Regions from separate parts of the Homo sapiens genome. Here region 1 is linked to region 2. The links come from fine-mapping of genetic effects on gene expression. A gene starts in region 2. The other region holds a variant in brackets. All regions are shown on one strand. Distances are from middle to middle.

Region 1 (8,333 bases), 940 kb after region 2:
CTTGTCTCTCGAGCCTCACAGCCTGGCATACGGCATGCTCTCAGCAAGTGCTGGGGGAATACTGCAGCTACTTTTCTTTTCCAGTCAAAGGATAAACCACTTCTCGAATCTAAATTACAACTGCAAACACAACACAGGTTAGCACACAGACCCCAACCTCTATGCTTACATTTCAGCTAAAGAAATTACTCCTGCTACTTAAAAAACAACAAATCAAGGCTGGTTGCAATGGCTCACGCCTGTAATCCCAGCACTTTGGGAGGCCGAGGCCGGTGGATGGCTTGAGCCCAGAGGTTCGAGACCAGCCTGGGCAACAAGGTGAAACCCCGTGTCTACAAAAAAAAATACAAAAATTAGCTGAGTGTGGAGGCGTATGCCTGCAGTCCCAGCTACTCAGGAGACTGAGAGGTGCGAGTATTGCTTGAGCCCAGGAGTTCCAGGCTGCAGTGAGCTGAGATCACACCTCGGCTCTACAGCATGGGCAACAGAGTGAGACCCTGTCTCAAACAACAACAAAGCCCAACAAAGCCAAATACTGAATAGTTAGGAAGATACTATGATTTAACATGGGGAGAAATTTTAGAAAATTAAATGTGAAGGAAAACAAATAATTTATAGCAATTTTAAATGCACAATAGAGTCATGAGCTGACAAAAGGTCATGTAACCGGTTTTGACGTTATCTGTTTTATTGTTTCAATAGTGAATTTATTGGCTCATGCAATATATTTTTGGAGATGGCGTCTTGCTATGTTGCCCAGACTAGCTTCAACTTTTGGGCACAAGTAACCCTCCTGCCTCGGTCTCCCAAGTAGCTGGGACTATAGGAGTGTGCCACTGAGCCTGGATATTATCTGCTTCAGGCTCAAATATTTGAAAATTATTTCACAAACGTTTGTCAAGGTTCAAATGGCCTTCTAAGTAGAATACTAAATCAGGAAATACTTTGTGCTCCTAAATTAGCGACTGTACCTCAGATTGCTTAGAACATAAACGTGTTCTAAGCAATATGTTCTAAGCATAATCATGTTCCAAGCCACAGCCCCAGGATATATAAGGCAGACTGTGGACCACACCATCAACGAGATGCCCTGGTAGGAGGCCAGGTCCAGACTCTTGGGAAGTCAAGTGGATGGCTGACTCAGTGGATCTCAGATGATCTCCTCCTCTGCTCTTGCAGGGACAGCAGGAAACCTGGCCTACCTCCAACGCCCCTGCCCCTACATCATTTCCCAGTTCTGGCTGGCTCTCCCCTCCTTGCTGTGACTCCCCTGCTTCTCTATCTCAGGGGGCTCCTTCTCCTTTCTCCAAGGCCTCCCACTTCTTTGCTGCCACTGAAAATACTCACAAATGCTCTTTTCTTTGAAGGGATTTACTGTTAACGTACATAGTGGAACAGTTTGGAAAATGCCTTTCACTAGCAAACGCAAAAAAAAAAAAAAAAAAGCTACAATTTGTTAGAAAGCCAGGCAAAGTGATCAGTCTAGTCCAGTGGTTGAGACCAAAGGCTCTGGTGACGGACAAACCTGGACTTGCCGGCTGCACGACCTTGAACTGCTTAGTCTTTCTAAGAATCAATTTCCTCACTGGCACAACACAGTACCACCACCACTTTCTTCAGAAGGTGGTGGTAAGGATTAAAGGAGAAAATGTATGCAAACAACTAGTTCTCATTATTGTTAGATTTTGGAGAAATTAGCCGCTGCTTCCCAGTCCCTGACTGCCTGTCTCGGGCGCACCCATGTTGCCAGTGTTTATTCCTGCAGATGGGCTGAGCACTAGGGCCAGCAGTAGCCCATCGGGTGACCTGGTGCGACTGAGAAAGGCGGGCCCTTCTTTTGGGCAGACCCGGGGCACATGGCTTCCTTGGTCAGGTGTCTGGCACAAACTGTACAACCATGCACAGTGACCTTGTTCCCAACTCTCCTTCCTCCAACACTAAACGACTTCTGTTCCTCAATGACCTGAGCCAGGCCTGGCACTCAGTTAAAAGAAGCCCTGTCTGAGCAAGGTGGCAGAGACGGGGGACCACCCTCTCTACATCCCTTCCCCCCTTTTTTTGAACAGGGTTTCACTCTGCCACCCAGGCTGGAGTATAGTGGTATGATCATAGCTCACCACAGCTTCACCTTACTGGGCTCAAGGGACCCTTCCACCTCAGCCTCCCAAGTAGCTGGGACTATAGGCATATGCCACCATGCCTGGCTATTTTAAATATTTTTTTGTAGAGACAGGGTCTCACTATGTTGCCCAGGCTGGAATCAAACTCCTGGCTTCAAGCGATCCTCCTGCCTCAGCCTTCCAAAGCATGGGGATTACAGGTGTGAACCACCGTGCCCGGCCTCCACCATTTTTTACAGTCAGGACATGAAATAGGAAAGGATGCTCTGTTTTCTTCCAGATGGGCCCTAGGTTGAACTTTCTGGTCCCTCTTCTCCACATGATGTCCTGCCTGGGCTCCCTGGCTCCTCTGCCATAGCTGGATCGTTAGTTCACCTTATGAAGCAACAAAAAGAGAGACCCACTGTGGCCTCTGCTACAGGCCAAGCAGAGGGCACAACCCAGGAGGAATGAAGTCAGTGTTCTGCTCGCTACCTGACTCCTGCGACAGAATCAACTGGCCCCTCAACAGGGGCTGAATCTGGAACAAAGCAGACGTCCCTTTATCCTACAATTTCTCAAACTTCTCATATCGAGCCTCTGTTTTCAGGAGGTTAAAACAAATTAATCATCAGTGAGAAGGCCAAAAAGACCCCACACAGGGACCCCAGAAAAACAAATGTCATCCAGCTGTGAACCATGAGGGCCCAATGACAGCTGACACGGCAGCCTGGACTGCGGTAAACAGAATGGCGAGACCAAACCTAAATGTTTCCCCTTGGAAAAATTAGCAGCAGCCACCTACAGAAGAATATTCCCCTCCATGCATCCAGGGGCCTGCTGACCTCTGCCCAGCCTTTCTACCTCATCTGTAACATTCAATCACATAGCCAGCCATCCTATGCACGCTGAGAGGTGACAGCGCCTCTGGGAATCAGATTAGAGAACACAATCGTTTGTGACCCTGCATCCCTGGGCCTGGCAGTTTCCTGACTGATCAGACCCTGGGCCCCTCAAGGCAGGGGCGCGAGCCACCACCACCGCCCTCCTCCGTGCAGTGCTGAATACATGCTACTGAAGGCTAAGGTATCGTCCTGCTGTGACGGCCTTCCCATTTTATAATTCAGTAGCGCACGAGGGCCATGGCTGCCTATAGCAAGAATGTGTGTGGTTTGATATTCACAGTTCCACTGTCCCAGAAAGTTTCCAGTTTGCTAGCTTGTAGCCATTTCCCCTATCTAGGTGCACTGGCCGTGATTTTACCCCACTCCATCTGGGGCGCGCCCGGCGCAGACAGGACTGCAGAGAAAAGGGACAGGGAGGGGACCTAGTCAGTCCCTACTATAACTGTTTCTCAAGACATTCTCCCCATGCATTTATTTGCTCTCCCGGGGAAAGAGCGAAGTGTGGGATGACTCATAGTGGCTAGATCGTTCCTCTAACTCCTCCCTTCTTTTGTGTGTGGTTTAAAAAAAAGAAAAACACACACGCAGCCCATAGCCACAACATCAACAAGACCAGAAGCCCCGCAGAGTTCGCAGGAGGTGGGCAGTGGCTGCGCCACCTGCTCGGCTTCCCCAAACTCCGAGCCCACGCCGGGAAGCGGCGGCTCGGTGGCCCCGGGCGCCCGGGCCGGTGGCCCCGCGCTCGCGCCGCTCCGCTCCGCAGCCGAGCGTGGAGTAGCAGGCGCTCGCGGCGCGGCGGGGGAGCCGCCGCGGAACCCAGGGCAGGCGGCCAAGCGGCCCGGCTGTGTCCAGCCATCGCCTGCGCCGCGGCCAGCTGGCGGCCAGGCGCGGGGCCCCGCGGCCAGATGGCCGCTCCGGGGACGCGCCGCAGGCGCCGGGTGCGCCCGGGCCGAGGGAGCGCCGGCGCGGCTGTGCAGGCAGGGGCTGGGGGCGGCGACCTCTGCCCGGGCGGAGAAGCTCAGGGGCCCGAGCGCGGCGGGCGGGGCGCGCAGCCTCCACGCCGCGCCCTTTGTCCCATGTGCGGCTCACACAGGGGCCCGCGTCCCCCGTGACCCCGGCCCGGGCCGCAGCTCAGGTCCCGGAACCAACTCCTCCAGCAGCGCCGCTCTGGCCCGGGCCGCCGTGCGGGGCTCGGGACACGGCGGCAGCGGGGAACCCGCGCCCGCTCCGCGTCCAACTCCGCTCGCCCCGCGGCGCGCTCGGCCCTGCAGGGGCCGCCCCGCGCGTTACCTGCAAGGAGCCTGAGCCCCGGCCGCATCTCCCTCCCGGGTGCGGAAACTCTGGCGGCTCCAGGCACCCGCCCGGACCTGGCAGGGGGAGGGGCCGCCCGCCGCGCACCCGACCCCCCCCGCGCCGCGCCTCCCGCAGCTCCCCACGCGCGCGGGCGCCCCCCAGCACCAGTCTCGGCCCGCCCCCTCCGCCCGACCATTGGCTGCTGCTCCCGTCACTTTCAGGCCACAGCCAAGTCCCTCCTCAGCTCATTGGCGGACGCGCCGGTGACGTCAGGCCAGGGGGCGCTAGTCGGCGGCGAAGGAGGCGCAGGGACAGACGGACCCGGCGGGAGAGGAGGAAGCCGGGTTGTGGGCGCGGAGCTGAGGCGGAGGCGGGGCCGGGGCGGGAAGGGGCGGCCCCAGCTGGGTCGGGCGAGGCTGGCTGCGGGAAACCGAGTGAGCCCTCGCTTTTCCTCCGGGGTCCGCGCGCGGGACCCTATTTCTGG[C/G]CTGTCTCGCGCTTCGCCTGCGCGGTGGTCTCCACGCTGGGACTGCGGCGTCCTCGCAGAACAGCCAGAACTCCACTTCTTCCTGTCCGGGAGGAGTTGTTTAAAACATGCGTATCTCCACCTTCTGCTTCTTAGAACAGAACTGACTGAAGCCGTGTTCTTCCCGCCGAGACCATGCCGCCCCATCGACCCTGCTGCGGCCAGAGCCACCCAGGGCGGGCCCACTCACCGCAGGCTCGGGCCACTTGGTTCCAAACCTCCACTCCCATCCAGGGGCCCGGCACACCCACCACACTCCCACTCTCAGAGGTCTTTGCCGCCTGCTTCAGGAGAAAAGAGAAACTTCCACTTTCCACCGGCAAAACTGCACACCTGCTCCCTCCATCACCGAGCCCCCCCCCCCACCTTCTGTTTTTCCAGTATCGCAGAATCCGATCCGTTGCTCCCTCTGGACTGGAATCCGTATCCTCGGCATTTCATCATTCCAAGATTCTCTACTCCACGTACCCTTGCTGCCACCCTCTTCTACTTTCCATCGCTGAAGTTGGTGAAAGAGGCGCCTGCCCCCAGTTTTGTGGTCTCTCAACTCCACGTGTTCGTTTTCACACTCGGTGAAATTGCCTTTTTAATTGTCGCAAGTAGCATCCACATCACTAAAGTCAAAGGACACTCTCCTTTCTCGTGTTAACTGATCTGAGCAAAATTCCTTCTTTCTCCTTAAAACACGTCTTCCTGTGGCGGGGGTGCTCCACTTTCCTGTCTGTCCCCAGTCTTGGCGTGCTTGTCTACTCTGGGTGACCACCAAATAACAGAGTTTTCAAGGTCTCAGACCTTTCCTCTTACTCCACAATTTTTCCCTGAATGATTTAACCTGCTGTCAACATTTAAATCAATATATCCCAAATTTGCAACTCTAATCTTTGCTCCTCTGAGCTCCAAATCCGTTTATCTAGCTTCCTATTCAGCTACTCCTGGTAACAAGCACCTCAAATGGAACCCATCCAAAACTGAATGCGTCCTTTCCCTGCTTGCTTTCAACTCCCTGTCTCCCTGTGATAGTGAAGACACCACTATCCAGTGTTTCCCAAACTCTGCCTTCACCTCGGCATCTAACAAATCGCCAAGATTCTACTTCCTAAATAACTCTGAAGTCTGTCCACTTCCTACCATTTCCAGTATTACGTATCATAATGTGCTTACTGCACGTGCGTTTTCCCGGCCCACACTCAGTGATGTCTCGTTGGTAGACTGTAATGGGCCATGGTCGAAGTATTTACACCATGGAAATTAGCCAACATTATGAATCATGAATCAGGGATCGATTTGTTTTGCTGATTGTCTCTAGACTTCAGAAAGTGATGGGGAAGATGTTAATAATGTAGATTAAACTTAAAAATGTGTTTAGTGCTGAAACAAGATTGCAGTTTAATGAGTTTATACAAGGGTAAGAAGTAGTTTAACAGATCACATATCAGATTTAAGGACAATAAATTTGTTGGCAAAAAGTGGATCGGTATGTAATTTCACTAGTCACATCATGGTTGAGTTACAAGCATTGGATGGATTCAGATACAAGCCTTTGGCAAAAAAGAAGCAAAGCTTTCTGTGAGAATCAGTCAAGTAGATAGAACTGACAATAAAGAGTGTCTGCCTTTTACTTGTGTATTGTTTATTACACATCCTTTATATCAGAAACATTTATAACACACATATGGTTGTATATATAGGTGGAAATAAAAAGCAGATGAGATTTTAGTCAGTTTTTTTTTTTATACTTTTAAGTTCTAGGGTACATGTGCAGAACGTGCAGGTTTGTTACATAGGTATGTATGTGCCATGTTGGTTTGCTGCACCCATCAAGTTGTCATTTACATTAGGTATTTCTCCTAATGCTATCCCTCCCCCAGCACCCCACCCCCTGACAGGCCCCGGTGTGGGTGCGTGAGGTTCCCCACCCTGTGTCCATGTGTTCTCATTGTTCAAGTCCCACCTATGAGTGAGAACATGTGGTGTTTGGTTTTCTGTCCTTGTGATGCTTTGCTCAGAATGATGGTTTGCAGCTTCATCCATGTCCCTGCAAAGGACATGAACTCATCCTTTTTTATGGCTGCATAGTATTCCATGATGTATATGTGCCACAGTTTATTAATCCAGTCTATCGCTGATGGACATTTGGGTTGGTTCCAAGTCTTTGCTATTTTAAATAGTGCTGCAATAAACATACGTGTGCATGTGCCTTTATAGTAGTGTGAGTTATAATCCTTTGGGTATATACCCAGTAATGGGATCGCTGGGTCAAATGGTATTTCTAGTTCTGGATGCTTAAGGAATAGCCACACTGTCTTCCACAATGGTTGAACTAGTTTACACTCCCACCAACAGTATAAAAGCGTTCCTGTTTCTCCACATCCTCTCCAGCATCTGTTGTTTCCTTAATTTTTAATGATAGCCATTCTAACTGGCATGAGATGGTATCTTATTGTGGTTTTGATTTGCATTTCTCTGATGGCCAGTGATGATGAGCATTTTTTCATGTGTCTGTTGGCTGCATAAATGTCTTCTTTTGAGAAGTGTCTGTTCATATCCTTTGCCCACTTTTGGATGGGGTTGTTTTTTTCTTGTAAATTAAGTTCTTCGAAGATTCTGGATATTAGCCCTTTGCCAGATGGGTAGATTGCAAACATTTTCTCCCATTCTGTAGGTTGCCTGTTCACTCTGATGATAGGTTCTTTTGCTGTGCAGAAACTCTTTAGTTTAATTAGATCCCATTTGTCAATTTTGGCTTTTGTTGCCATTGCTTTTGGTGTTTTAGACATGAAGTCCTTGCCCATGCCTATGTCCTGAATGGTATTGCCTAGGTTTTCTTCCAGGGTTTTTATGGTTTTAGGTCTAACATTTAAGTCTTTAATCCATCTTGAGTTACTTTTTGTATAAGGTGTAAGGAAGGGATCCAGTTTCAGCTTTCTACATATGGCTAGCCAGTTTTCCCAGCACCATTTATTAAATAGGGAATCCTTTCCACATTGCTTGTTTTTGTCAGGTTTATCAAAGAGATGGAGACTTGCTGTGTTGCCCAGGCTGGAGTGCAATGGTGCAATCTCAGCTCACTGCAACCTCCACCTCCCAGGTTCAAGTGATTCTCCTGCCTCAGCCTCCCGAGTAGCTGGGATTACAGGCACCCACCACCATGCCCAGCTAATTTTTGTATTTTTAGTAGAGACGGGGTTTCACCAGGTTGGCCAGGCTGGTCTCGAACTCCTGACCTCAGGTGATCCACCCGCCTCGACGTCGTAAAATGGTGGGATTACAGGTGCGAGCCACCACGCCTGGCCTAGTCAGTTTTATTATTGTCAACTCTCTATAGACAATGCACACCTTATTTCCTGCCTTCAGGGTGGCTTGCCCCCACACGGCCCCTCTTGGTGGGCTCCTGCTTCCCAGTACTCTTAGATTGAAGGCCTCAATCTTTCATGATCTGCAATGCCACAGCATGATCAGGCTGCTTGCCTGCTGCTCCTGAGTCATCTCATGCCTCTCTCTCCTGCATTCCCT
Region 2 (8,333 bases):
GTTAACTGTTTTGATGTTAGGATATATCTAAAATGCTTAGTTAAACTGAGTCCCATACCTGTTGTATTTTATAAGCTCATTTTGGAAAATGTACGTAATGTTTATTTATTGTAAATGCAAGGTCTGTTCGGTATCCGTACATTTCCACGCCGCTGAAAGGGTGGATTTGGTTCTGATGGACTGGAACGGCTCCCGGGGAGGCATTGTGGTGTTTGCGTAAATCCCCTTTCCTTTTTGGTTTACTCATTTGATGCAGGAGGGTCGGTTCTTGGGCTGTTGCTTTCTCTCCTGTTAATCCAGCTACTGCACATGCGCACGAAGGCAACAGGTTAAAAGTCCTAATTTAAGATAGCTTTGGGTATGGAGAGATAAAATCCCTTTTTCTCCAGTTGAAGCATCTGTTTTTCAGTTGAGTGTAGATGGGTTGATTTTCATGAATGTATACATCTAATATGTTTATGTAAACACATTAAGGCAAGATTTCAGAATTAATTTCAGAGTATGTTTTATGATAATTACTGCTATTCTGCCAAAAGTTTAATAGCCAATCATAAGAATTTTCTTAAATTATTATTTTCAAATTAATAAGGTGTTAGACTTCTCATTTGTTCTTTCTGGTACTGTTTTGAGATTAAGAACTCAAAGATGAACTCATTCATTCATCAAATATTATTTATTAAACTCTTCCTCCATGCCAGGCTCATTGTCATAATTATCATTGTAATTAGTCTGTAACTTATATTTACAATGATTATGTAAATAGCGGAAACACCTAACTATCCTGCTTCTTGGTAATCAGGTTTAACTCTCCATGGGGTCGGTGTGTTCTTTCTGAAGCATGTCTTTGAATAGATTACTCGGGCCTTCCCCTAGTTCTTGGAATGCTAACTGAAATTGTGTGATTGATAGATTTCCCCAGACTTAAAACTGGAGAGATCCATGGGGGCAGAGTGGTTCCATGGAGGCAGAGTGGTGTCATGGAGAGGACACAGGCTGTCGTCATTTACTTTTCCTGCCCTGAAAAGGGAAGAGCCAGCAGCTCAGGGGTCGGTGTGAGACTTAAACTCTGAATAATGTAAAGCGGCTGGCACAGGCCTGGCCCTCAGTGCGTCCCCCCATGAGCGCCCCTCCCCCGCCCCTTATCCCTAAGGCAGTAGTGTCTGTAGGGCCTCAGGCACCTACATTCTCATTTCCTTCATGTATGCAGAGGGCCAGGGAAGTTACCTGGTTACCACTTGCTCTGTGCCACAAAAAAGGCGTGCAAGGATGTACATCAGAACCTGGTTTTGACTGGGCACAGTGACTCACGCCTGTAATCCCATCACTTTGGGAGGCTGAGGCGGGCAGATCACCTGAGGTCAGGAGTTCGAGACCAGCCTGGACAACTTGGTGAAACCCCATCTCTACTCAAAGTTCAAAAATTAGACAGGCATGGTGTCACACGCCTGAAATCCCAACTACTCGGGAGGCTGAGGCAGGTGAATCACTTGAACCTGGGAGGCGGAGGTTGCAGTGAGCCGAGATAATGCCACTGCACTCCAGCCTGGGTGACAGAGTAAGACTTCATCTCAAAAAAAAAAAAAAACTTTGTTTCTGTGCACAATACCTCAAAGACTTGTTAGGCCTGGGGAATAGACCTGCCTCATTTGCTTGTTTGAAGCCTAATTGCAGGTATTTCTAATACTTCCTACAGTGGATTTCTCTCGTCTTCCAAATGTTGCTTTTCCACAGAATTGGCGTGGTAATTGCTGAGAAGAAAGAACTTCCTTAACTGAATCAAGCCTGCCTCCACCTCTTTTCTAGGATTGCAGGTTCCTTTTCAGATAAAGGTCTCAAAAGGGCAGGCAGGGCAGAAGGTCTTCTCATAAAATCCGAGGATTGTGGTCCTCTGGGTGCTTCATCTGCTGCAACCAAGTAGAAAAAAAGGAATAAACACAAACACATTTCACTCTGCCTCCAACAAACCTCCTTCAGGTCAGATCTAGTATCCAAGAAGTAACAAAAATAGTCCATCTAGCAAATGAGCCATTTTCTTTGAGAGACAGGCAAGCAAGACACCTGGGTTTGTCTAGATATAATTAGTTATTTCTCCCGTGGCCAGTATGGGAGTAAACACTATGCAGTAAACACCAGCTGAAGAACATTGTCCTGTCTATCTCAGGACAGGGAATGATAGATACCTTTTGGTCTCTACTTAAAGACAGTATTGCCGGGTGCGGTGGCTCATGCATGTAGTCCCAGTACTTTGAGAGGCCGAGGTGGGCGGATCACTTGAGGCCAGGAGTTTCAGACCAGCCTGGCCAACATGGTGAAATCCTGTCTCTACTAAAAATACAAAAATTAGCCAGGCATGGCGGTGGGCTTCTGTAATCCCAGCTGCTCAAGAGACTGAGGCAGGAGAATTGCTTGAACCTGGGAGGCAGAGGTTGCAGTGAGCAGAGATCATGCCACTGCATGTCAGCCTGGGCAACAGAGCAAAACTGTCTCAAAAAATAAAAATATAGACAATATTAGTATTAATATTACAGATCCCATTATATTTCTTTTCATGAGTTTTGTGAGGGTATTCCCCAAAGCTCTGTGTTTTGGTGGGGGGGATTACAGGTGTGAGCCACCATACTGGCCCCCTCCCCCAATAAATATAAACTGGGTACTTATTAATACTTAATATACATATGTTTCTTTTCTTTTCTTTTTTTTTTTTTTTTGAGATGGAGTCTCACTCTTTTGCCCAGGCTGGAGTGCAGTGGCACGATTTCGGCTCACTGCAACCTCCGTCTCCTGGGTTCAAGCGATTATCCTGCCTCAGCCTCCCGAGTAGCAGAGACTACGGGTGTGTGCCACCACATCCGGCTAATTTTTTGTATTTTTAGTAGAGATGGGGTTTCACTGTGTTAGCCAGGATGTTCTCGATCTCCTGACCTCATGATCCGCCTCCCTCGGCCTCCCAGAGTGCTGGGATTACAGGTATGAGCCAACTTCTTTTTTTTTTTTTCTTTTTAATAGAGACAGGGTCTCACTGTGTTACCCAGGCTGAAGTGCAGTGGTGCAATCACGCCTCACTGCAGCCTCAACCTCCAGGGCTCAAGCAGTCCTCGCACGTAGCTGGGACCACAGTTGTGCACCACCATGCCTGGCTACTGTGTGCTTTTTTGTTTTGTTTTGTTTTGTTTTTGTAGAGATGGAGTCTCATTATGTTGCCCAGGCTGGTCTCAAACTCCTGGGCTCAAAGAAGCCTCCCACCTCAGCCTCCCAAAGTTCTGGGATTAGAGGCATGAGCCACCATGCCCAGCCCCACCCCAGTAAATATAAACTGGGTCCTTCCTTAATACCTTAAAGACAGCAATTTTCGACATATTCAAGACAGTTGTTCCTTCTGCTTTGGAATGCTGAGAGCTTCTTTCCTCATAATTGTGTTCTAGAAGTTCTGCAGGGCCTTGCTATGGGAACCAGAGAAAGCAGAATGGCCAGGGCCATCCAATTGTCTCCTTCCCAGAGATCAGGATGAAGGGCTGTGTTAAAAGATCTCTCTCATCTTCAGCTGGAAACAAATAGTACTGAAAAGAATGATCTGGACTGTTTCTCTTGTCTTTTAAAAGTGTGAGGCCTAAAGAGGGGAGAGAGTATCTTTGTGCTGTGTTATGCCTGACACATTGTCGGTGACCAACAGATGTACTTGGCCATTTATATGGGGATAACATACATGTGATCTTAGCCAAAAGGCCCTCCAAACCTTCCTTCAGCAGCCCTTTAGATTGGGCTCCTTTGTCAGTCATCTGCTTGAGTATCAGCTATGCTGAAGGAAAAGACATAGGGAATGGTGGTTGGAGGTGGTGGCAGCCAGAGATAAATGTATCTCTGAGGCATGGTTTCATCTGGTCAGTAAGATGTGTGCCTTTGGATCTGCTTCGGGCTAAATATCTTAGGGGTTTGGTGGGCTTTAGAAGTGTGTGTAAATGGGAGGCGGGAAAGTGAGGCCGGAGACTCATCATCACTGCTCTCCACCCTCCAGAGGGGACTGCGGAAAGCGCAGCCAGCCATCGGCCTGTTGACAAGGCACTGGCAGTCACTGAAAAATTCTTTTCCTTTCTCTGTCAATTAGCAAATGATGGTCTTCTACTGATAAAGTTTAGGAATAAAGGAGAAAGAGGAAGATGGAATCCTGGACCACTTTCAGCCTGCACTTGAGTATTCCTTATGTGTTCTCCTGACTCCCTGGTGCCACTACCCCCTGCCACCGTCGGCCCTGTGGCAGTGGGGCCCTTCCCCCCGCCAGCCTCGGCACCGCTTCAGTGTGGCTGGTGCCTCCACCACCATTGGTACTGTGTCAGCATTGCTGGTGCACCTGCCACCGTCGGTCCCTCATCAGCATTGCCCATGCCCCCACCACCGTCAGTCCCTCATCAGCATTGCCGGTGCCCCCCTACCACCGTTGGTCCCACATCAGCGTGGCCGGTGCCTCCACCACCGTTGGCCCCACGTCAGCGTGGCCAGTGCTGCGACCCAGTTGCTGGCTGGAGGATGGCTGGCCACTGTTGGAGCTGCTGATCTTTCCAAGGCCTTGTCACAGTGGCCATAGATCTCAAGGTGCACCCAGGACACTCAGGAAACCAGCCTCTTGGTTAGGCAGCTGAGGCCTCACTTTTCTGCATCCATGTACTCCTTTGGTATCTGGATCTTCCTTTTAAACTTTGACTAACACGTGTGGCAGAACCAATCACCACCACAGCCTGCAAGTGCACTGAGGACCTGTCAGGCCCAGGGGAGGTGCAGCACGCTCATGGGGGCAGCCCAGCACTGCCCAGGTGGCTGGAGCGAGTCACGGGGAGAGCAGAAAGCTTTGGGCGTCCTGGCTGACTGGCCTCTTAGTGAGAATACAGAACAGCTCCTGGCAGCACTTTCCCTTCCAGCTTTCCTCAAGACAGGCCATGCCAGGCGAAGAGGAAGGGCAAGGTGGCTCCCTCCGGGTATGGAGATGGGGTGAGCCTGGGGACAGTGGAGCCTCTGAGCAGAGGACTCCAGAGGCTCAGGGAGCAGCAGAGCCGCCCAAGATGATAGACAGGAGCTGAAGGCCAGAGGGGACCACGCCTGGAGTCTTGGCGGGAGGAGCATGGACACAGGACCAGGGAGGGAGCCCCAGAGGCAGTGCCGACCATCCTGCTAAACACACGGAACGGCCTCCCCATTCTTTCCCCTAAAGAGTAGGGGCTTGGGCCAGGCACGGTGGCTCACGCCTGTAATCCTAGCACTTTGGGAGGCCGAGGCAGGTGGATCACCTGAGGTCAGGAGTTTGAGACCAGCCTGGACAACATGGTGAAACCCCTTCTCTACTAAAAATACAAAAATTAGCTGGGCGTGGTGGCAGATGCCTGTAGTCCCAGCAACTCAGGAGGCTGAGGCAGGAGAATCACTTGAGCCCCGGGGGCTGAGGTTGCTGTGAGCCGAGATCGTGCCACTGCGCTCCAGCCTGGGTGACAGAGTGAGACTCTGTTTCAAAAAAAAAAAAAAAAAAAAAAAAGGCGGGGGCTTGGAGAGGAGAGGAGGGGTCCTGGTTTTGTTGTACTTTGTTAATATAGACCAGATTTCGGCAGATTGCACTGTATAAAGAAAAATAAACATGGACAGAAAAGTTGTATGGTCAAAATTGAAGTAGCAAAGCCTTCTTTAAAAGTTGAAATTACTTTTGTTTCTTTACTAAAGCACAAAGTCTAGTTGCAGAATATATGTCTATCTTAGCCTGCTTTAAGAAAAAAAAAAAAAAGCGGCTGAGCCCAGGGGCTCATACCTGTAATCCCAGCACTTTGGGAGGCCATGGTGGGAGGATTACTTGAGGCCAGGAGTTTGAGATCAGCCTAAGTAACATAGCAAGACTCTGTCTCTACAAAAATAAATAAAAGACTGCAGCTGCTTATATTAAAAAAAAAAAAAAGGCCAAAGAATGCCTCAAAGCATTGAAATAAAACTTACTGATGGTTTCACCAGCAGAACAGAGACATTGGCCACTGTTTAAGCTGTGCTAGATGATAAAGAAGGCCATACATTAGTTTCAAAGTCAGAGTAGACAGAGGCGGAGGGTAGATAGGTGTTAGCAGGATGGCTCTCACGGACGTGCTGGGGCCACATGGACAGTGGACCCCTGGATGGGGAGGGAGGAAGGAAGGGCCTCGGACATCTCCTGATGTGAAGAATCCTGTGTTCTCAATTTTAACCTCTTTGTTTCTAGCCAAGAAGTAAACTGAATAACATACTCCACACCAGAATGGTTTCACTTAGCTTTCGTATCTCAGGAACTGGGCTTCAGTTCTGCAGTGAGAACTGTCCTTTAATTGCTTCTCCCCTGGAGGCTGATGTGGTGACATACTTTGGAGCACAGGGCATACAGGCATCCCTGCACGAACGGTACCAGGGGCTTGGGATGGCTGCAGCACATTCTGCTGGGGCTTTGTTTTCCTTGGGGCTATGTTTGTTTTTTCTTTTTCCCTTCTTTCTTACTGTTTCTTTTTTCTGGATGCATTATGTTCTTTAAAGACTAGTGATTTTCCACACCAAATTATTTTAGAAATTTCAGCATTATATGGCAGTTTTTTTTTTTTTTTTTTTTTTGAGACAGGGTCTTACCTTGTCACCTTGTCACCTATACTGGAGTGCAGTGGCACAAACACGATTCACTGCAGCCTCAACCTCCCCGGGCCCAAGCCATCAGTCTTCCACCTCAGCGTCCCCCACCAACAAGTAGCTGGGACCACAGGCACATCCCACCACACCCGGCTAAGTTTTGTATATTTCGTAGAGATGGGGTCTCAGCATGATGCCCAGGCTGGTCTCAAACTCCTAGGCTCAGGCAATCCTCCCTCCTTAGCCACTTACAGGTGTGAGCCACTGTGCCTGGCCTATTTTAAAGGTGTTTTTTCTTTCTTTGGTTTCGGAGAGAAATCAGTTTCCTGTGTATCTTAAGCTGTGTGGATAGGGGGATTGTGATAATGGGTCATTATTTTATAATTTTGCTATTTTAAATGAGTTTTAAAACCTGTAGCCAGTTTCTGATCTCAGGGAACATACCTATTAACTCAAGGTGTTACAAATATCTTGACAGCTTAAAAATTGAGTTAAGATATGAAAATAAGATATGAAAATATGAAAATACTGTGCTGTAATACAAGAGGCATTCATTACCTTTTCCCTGCCCATCAGTCTCGACAGGATAACTTTACACTTGACCCAAAGATATTTAAAAATACATCCGCTTTCTTTGAAACTTCTGTGTCAGTGTTTTTCATTTGAATGATTAACAGAAGCACATTGGTTTGTAGGTAAATAGTAAATAGGTAATTCTACTTGTTTTTCTAATTTTTAAAATGCTTTACAAATAATTATTAATGATACTGTATGATTAAGGAAAGGGAATTTGTATGAAGCTAATTTGAAGGTAATTGGCTTTTGCATTTATTTATTCATGTATATATTTAATTCGCATCTGTTATGTGTCAAGTATAGTGCAGGAGTCAGCAGAAAAAGTAATTCCTAAAATCATGGCTCTTGAAATCAGTTATTTGTCTTTGTTTTTCCTCCTCAAAGATTACTCCCTGTTCAGTCTTGTTAATGTGATCAGAGATTTATATTAACTTTTAAGATCTCATAATCCCAATAATGTAAGATATAGTAGAGATGAGTAGAGAACAGAACTTAAAAAAAAAAACAAACTGTAATTACTAGGAAATTGACTCTACCAGGGAAATTAACAGACTTGTCCAAAATTGTCCCTGTAGACAGAGAGGGCTGGTAAGGCTGGAATGAACCCGTCGTAATTTGAATGCTTAAAACTTTTTCCATTTTATTGTCAAAATTATTGCCTGAACTTCCTTTTTCTCCTCATTTGCCTATTTCCCTTGCTTTTTATCTTGTGCACCACCAGTATACAACATAGTGGTGTTTAACTACTTCCTGAAGGCATTATTAGTCATCAGGAACACCAGGTCATTATCGAAGTAGATAAATGGGCATTCCGCCCATCGACTACCCCTTGGACTAATTTGGAAAATATGGTTCCTTCCCTCAGAAGAAACAGCCCATGCTCCTCTGGACACTTATAAAATAGCCATGCGCACGTCTCTGTTCCTTCTGAACAACTGGAATTAATGTGTCCTGCTTGATGCTAAACTGGAGTTTAATTCACAATGGCAAGGACGCTTCACCTAGAATATCTGTCCATGTGAAAGGTGGGGAGCAGTGCAGCTTCCATCTCCCTGTCTGTTTTTTGGTGGGCTTTCAGCTTTTCTGTCCCATGACTGTTAGTGACTGCAGCGTAACCCCAAATCTTTCACCAGATGTTGTCT

Alleles and levels. Positions count from the first base shown, and alleles are read on the strand shown. Sizes are in standard deviations (SD) of each study's normalised expression.
With allele C in place of G in region 1, the expression in hippocampus of the gene that starts at base 3,413 in region 2 is higher (moderate effect, 0.66 SD a copy in GTEx).

Evidence for each region. PIP is the estimated chance that this variant, and not a neighbour inherited with it, causes the effect.
Region 1: its variant is fine-mapped to the expression of CLYBL-AS1 in hippocampus (GTEx, PIP 0.99).

The regions. Positions count from the first base shown.
Region 1 is chr13:100,670,450-100,678,782 of GRCh38, forward strand. TMTC4 (transmembrane O-mannosyltransferase targeting cadherins 4) reads right to left here and starts at 4,346. Exons shown (of 19, transcript NM_032813.5): 1 at 4,295-4,346; 2 at 1-120. RefSeq lists enhancers at 2,722-3,611, 4,937-5,016 and silencers at 3,727-3,806, 3,857-4,216, 4,247-4,746. The variant C/G (reference allele first, on the strand shown) is at 4,782.
Region 2 is chr13:99,725,589-99,733,921 of GRCh38, forward strand. CLYBL-AS1 (CLYBL antisense RNA 1) reads right to left here and starts at 3,413. Exons shown (of 3, transcript NR_120383.1): 1 at 3,333-3,413; 2 at 1,642-1,904; 3 at 80-447. All of the region lies in intron 1 of CLYBL (citramalyl-CoA lyase), which reads left to right. RefSeq lists enhancers at 3,838-4,755, 4,756-5,672.